Regions from separate parts of the Homo sapiens genome. Here region 1 is linked to region 2. The links come from fine-mapping of genetic effects on gene expression. A gene starts in region 2. The other region holds a variant in brackets. All regions are shown on one strand. Distances are between the middles of the regions. Region 1 overlaps F5 (coagulation factor V). Region 2 holds the start of SLC19A2 (solute carrier family 19 member 2).

What was found. PIP is the estimated chance that this variant, and not a neighbour inherited with it, causes the effect. A credible set is the group of variants that fine-mapping cannot tell apart.
Region 1: its variant is the best candidate, but not a certain one, in a credible set for the expression of SLC19A2 in fibroblasts (GTEx, PIP 0.52).

The regions. Positions count from the first base shown.
Region 1 is chr1:169,510,380-169,513,295 of GRCh38, reverse strand. It overlaps F5 (coagulation factor V), which reads left to right. Exons shown (of 25, transcript NM_000130.5): 25 at 1-1,345. Among named protein-coding and RNA genes, the nearest start is that of SLC19A2, 26 kb to the right of the region's middle. RefSeq lists a silencer at 2,358-2,558. The variant T/A (reference allele first, on the strand shown) is at 1,358.
Region 2 is chr1:169,484,272-169,487,187 of GRCh38, reverse strand. It overlaps SLC19A2 (solute carrier family 19 member 2), which reads left to right and starts at 1,244. Exons shown (of 6, transcript NM_006996.3): 1 at 1,244-1,625. The coding sequence starts at 1,422. RefSeq lists enhancers at 810-879, 187-1,107, 890-1,139, 943-1,237, 1,780-1,839 and a silencer at 1,420-1,599.

The sequences.
Region 1 (2,916 bases), 26 kb before region 2:
AATAAACCACCCCAAAACTTAGTGTTAAAAGAGCAACCAAAAAAAATTTATGTGAGATTATGGATTTGTTACTTAGCTTGATTTAATCATCCTGTAACGTGTACATATATCAAAATGTTATGTATACCATAAATATATAAAATTTTATCAACGAAATTCATAACAATCTCTCAGACCACAGAGAAATCAAATTAGAACTGAGGACTAAGAAACTCACTCGAAACCACACAACTACATGGAAACTGAACAACCTGCTCCTGAATGACTACTGGGTAAATAATGAAATTAAGGCAGAAATAAATAAGTTCCTTAAAACCAATGAGAACAAAGAGACAACATACCAGAATCTCTAGGAGACAGGGCTTTGCTTTTGCTGCATTCTATTCGTTGTGAACACAAATTACAGGCCAGTCTCGATTCAGTGTAGAAGGGAACTGCATAAGGACCACATACCAGGAGGCATAATTCACTGGGAGCATCTTTAGAAACTACCAGAGTTACCTGTTGCCCATACCAGTGGGGTAAGCCCTATGAATGTATATGAGAGTTTCAAACATCCACAAAACATTGGCTTTCTAATATTCGTATTCCCACTATTCCTTTCTTTTCATGATTCATGTCATTGTCCCATCAACATTTCTAAGATTTCCATTCCGTTAAGAGCAAAAGAGAATGTTGGAAGGTGGGGGAAAACATTTCTTTGTTTTCTACAGGGCCAGCTTCTTGGATGTGTGTGATCTGTTCAGTTGCAAAGGGTCACATGCTCAGAAGGACCGCATGCTAAATTTAATGCTTTGCAGTTACCCTCTTGAAATCCTTTATTTTTTAAGAAGGAATTCGACATTTCCATTTTTCAATGAGCCCCACAAATTACGCAGCTAGTCCTGGGCTTCTCTACTCTGAAATTGGGCAGGATCTCTCTTGATCTAGAATTTACTAAGGCATAATAGGGGCAAGAAAATCTTATGAAATAATGGGGGGTAGGGAAGAGATGGGAATGGAGCATGAGATCCAGCTTCGTTATTCTCTACTTGAGAAAAATAAGGCCCCAAAGATTAAACAACTTGCCCAAGGATATTGCTTGTTAGTGTCAGAACTGAAACCAGAAACCAAATGATCATATCCCTAGACTTTTAGTCTGCTTTCTCTTCCATAAAATGAAACTTATAATGTTTCTAATCCATTGCTCAGACAGGTAGACATGAATATTAATTGATAATGACTATTAATTGATCTGGAAAATACTTGTTTGGGGATCAATAATATGTTTGGGCTATTATCTAATGCTGTGTAGAAATATTAAAACCCCTGTTATTTTGAAATAAAAAAGATACCCACTTTTTATTTCTCTCTCTGA[T/A]CTCACTTAGATGAAATTACAAGTTTGACTACATAGTACGTCTCCAGTGACATAAACCACTGTTTGTTACAACTGGGTGCTTTGGAAAGAAGTTAAATGACTCACGGTAGAATCATGACTTAAGAGAAACCAACAGATAAAATTCTAAACATTATTAGTCATTCTAATTGCAATTTGGAAAAGAATAGCTGTGAATGTATCAAAAATATGAAAGGACTAGAAGAAACATGAAATTATTTCTCCAGAATTCTTTCAAGTTATTAAAAGAAATAACAAACTTCATGCCATTTTTATAATCATTTTGAATAAACACCATATTTTGAGTTCAGGGCCATTTTGGCAAACCCAGGGAAAAGCTCTTGCCAAATAGCTTGGATGTTCCCAAGAGCCATGAATATTTCACCATTTACTTCTCTGGACAGACCAGGAAGGAACAATTTACTAGGCAGTGAATTTTGGTTTTACGAAATATTGGCACATGCCCCAATGCAGTGGGCCTAACACATACTTAAAAATATCTGATAGCTCCATGTTAGCATTTTTCTTGTTTTATATTTCCTAATGGAGAAGTATTTTATGGAAAATTCTGAATGCCTAATTCTCCCAAGTTCATATATTCTCATAGCCTAGAGATAGGGAAAGCTGTAGACAAAGACAAAATGATTATGTGTGGAATAATATTTACATGGTCAATGCCCAGATAACAAGGTTTTTCATATCCAAGTACTTAAATTGTTGGGAGAGACTACAGAGCTTTAAGATTTTATTATCTCTGGCTTGTATGAACTGTCCCCACCAAAACATATACATGTATTTTGCATTTGGTACATGTAAAGAAAACTTGATATTAACCTCTCTACATGTACCATCATTTTAATTTTTTAAAAAGTATTAAGCTCATTCTATCGACACAGCAAACCACTATGACAGGCATTGTAGGGGAGAGTATATAAAGGAAATAAAAGACACTTCTCTGGCTTATTCAAATACATCATCTAGTTGCATAGAGAAGACAAACATAAGAAGCAAATAGACACTATGAGCCTATTAAGCCTAACAGATTACACCCTGAGTAGTAAAGAAAAAGACAATTAGATGAGTAGCCTTGTGGGATGGAATCAGACTGTGAAAACTTTTGGAGATGATTTAACCTAGGTCATCTGATATTAGATGTGTATGAAGGCAACCTGTGCAGAACTCCAGAGAAGAGAGGACTGGGATAAGGATCAATAAAAACCAGGATAAATAAGAGCTTTATGCTCAAATTCAGGGCCCAGTTAAGCTTTCTCTGACATACCTACTCATTTTCCCTACCCTCTCTATATAGTCTAATAATGACTTATCCACCTCCCTCCATCTCCTGTACCATGCCCATAAATCCAGTGTATGTGCAAGGTCAAAACAAATAAGAATTACCTGGGTAGAACTGATGATGTGAGGGTGGGGAAAGACACAAAAACAGATACAATACATATCCCTAATCTCCAAATCGTGAATTACAGATGGTAGTGACCAGATTAAAAGTGGGTCACCTTTGGAAATATTATAGAAGACGCCCA
Region 2 (2,916 bases):
CTCATTGAGATATGTAAATACTGCCAGTTGTATTTCTTCACAGATTAATCAACTCACAGATTTGGGTGCATTCATTTGTGCAGTCTTAGAAACAAATCTTTCCCTTTACCAGTATCTTATTCCATCTGGTAGACTCATTTCTGCTGCTGATGCTTGAAAAAAGTGTCATTTGCTACCACAGGAGGAAAACGGTGCTAGATGGATCATAACATACAGAAAAGCAAGATAGTTCCAAAATGTTTCCAAGAGCTTCTGGCAGGATCTGTCATTCTACAAATACTGCACAGGAAAAATTGCTTTAAATGCTGCATCTTTGCAGTAGAAAGATTAGGATTGAGCCAGGCTGTGAGTCAGGCAGAAAAAGGCACACAGAGGGGGATGAAAGAAAGCACTGGAGAGTCTTGTCATGCTTTGCCCTTGAAAACTATGCCAAGACCTCTTTTGTGTTTTTAAATGAAGAAATCCATCATGTTTTGTGATTGCTGTAATGACTCAGGATCTTCCACCTTCCTTTTAACTATAAACCGTAGCGTAGTTAGGTGTTTGTTTTCTTTGTATCATGCTTGCAAAAAGTGACGAAATAAAGTTAAAACCCTTTAACTGGGACTCCATTACGGTTCTGCTGTTCAGTGACCAGCTTGTTCATTATTCTCACAATATTATCTACTTTCTTCATTTCAGTCTGTCTCTTAGATCCTGGGCTTCTGATGTCTTTCCATGGCGGATGAATACAATTTAAAACACGAAAGCTGCTGGAGGAAAGGTTTAACGTTCCCCCTCCCCAAGGTGAAATCTTTGCCTGGCCTCAGTCACTAAGTCTCTCAGGAGCGGAAACTGAATGGACATTCCGGAGACGGTGAATAAGAATGATAAACGGTGGTTGGGGAGAACAGCGCGTTTCTTCCAGCGGAGGACTAGGCCCACAGGACGCATTCCCAACAGATGAGCGGAGCCGACAGCAAGTGTGCCACGAACGCCAGCTGGCCGCCTCACTAGAGAGAGCTCCGCCGCAAGCCGCCGCTTTTGGAGTGGAGTTCCACATGTCCTCCGCGCTTGAGCCCTGGGACGTCAGAGGCCTGGCGTGCTGCCACCGCCCCAGTTCACGTCGTGTGACCCACGACCAATGGAAGAGCAGGCAAGTATTCCCGGCGTCCGCTGTGATTGGTTCCCGGAGTGGAGGCGGTGGCAGAGGGTGGGCCTTAGGACGGGTCTCCCTTAAACTGGGCGATCAGGCAGCGACCCTAGAGGCGTCTGTAGGGTAAAGCTGGGGGTTCTGTAGCCGGAGGCGGCGGCGAGTCCAGAACGTCCTGGCCTTACAGGGAGAAGGCGTCACTCGCGGTTACAAGTGCCTGACCCTCACTCCAGTTGGCGGAGGAGGAGAAGGAAGGGGCCGGGCCGGGTCCCCTCCCCTCGCGCCCCGGATGGATGTGCCCGGCCCGGTGTCTCGGCGGGCGGCGGCGGCGGCGGCCACTGTGCTCCTGCGGACCGCTCGGGTCCGTCGCGAATGCTGGTTCTTGCCGACCGCGCTGCTCTGCGCCTACGGCTTCTTCGCCAGCCTCAGGCCGTCCGAGCCCTTCCTGACCCCGTACCTGCTGGGGCCGGACAAGAACCTGACCGAGAGGGAGGTACGCGCGGCGGACGCGGGGCGCGGGAAGGGCGGGCGACCGGCCTGCGGGTGGGCAGCGGAGGAAGAGAGGACCGAGAAAAGCGCTCGAGCCATTCTCGGCAGAGATTTCTGATTTTGCCAGTTGGAGGTCGGCTTCGTGCTCTTCTTTGTGTTCATGATTTTCTGTTTTCTTCGGCTCTGTAGGACGAGTCTCCTGCGAAGGGCTCAGAACACGCGTCCAGAGGCCCCGTGCCTTGTGCGTCAGGCAGTATGCTGATCGTGTTGTAATGTGGCTTAGCGTGACTGCCCAGACTGGTCCAGCAGTTCCTGCTGGGGGCGAGGGGGCAATATTTTGACAAAGAAGTGAAAACAGCAAAGTGTACTTTGGACACGGCTTAGTAAATATTCATTGACTGAAAGTAGGCAACCACTGCTTTTCTGAAAGGATCTTCCCTCTACCTCCTTCACCTGCTTCCTGTCCATACCTTACTTTGTTTGCATTTGGCAGAATGGGTGGGCTTAATCAAGTAAGGACAGGACAGAAGTACAGAACATCTTAATTTGTCTTGATTTTTAATTGGGTGAGGTTGTGTCCAAGGATATCCTGCCCCTCTCTACCTTAAGACCAACCTCCAGGGATAAAGGCAGATGGTGAAACATAATTGACTTTTAATTATAGTGTTTCTTGTATTGCGAATTGTTGCTTCACAGATGTTAGTTTTGCTTCTCAGATACAAGGTGATGTCTTTGAAGGCCTTCTGTGATGTTCAGGGTAATTGAGAGCACGTAGTCCATCATCAAGAGTTTCTTGCTGATTGATTTTTTCCCTAGATGAGGGCTTACAAATAAAGTACTTCAGAAGCGCATAGTGTACTTTAGAAATGTGCTGACCTATTTAAGTGCATGGTCAAAACCAGCACTTGATTTTTGCAGAAGAAAGACAATATATAAACTGAGAAAGAAATTAAACCCAAAGTACTTCCACAAAACCGAAATAAAGCCGATTCAACACCCTCTTCCTTGAATACAACAAAGGGTGAAAGCTGAGGTCTCATGTTCTTTTTCCTACTATCAGTCAAGGGGCCACTTGAGAGCTTTTTCTTTTTTCCTACACCTGTTCCTTCCACCCTGCCTCCTTGCCCCAGGTGCTGTAAAATACTCCTCCCATTTAAACCTTACTCTTCTCTATGTGGGTAGTAGTCAGTCACTTCTTTTGAGTAGCCACTCAGTAACCCTGCATAACAGGTCAGAACAAGAGATGGCACTACCGGAATCATTTGCACACTGGCGAGATATAGTTACTCATAGTT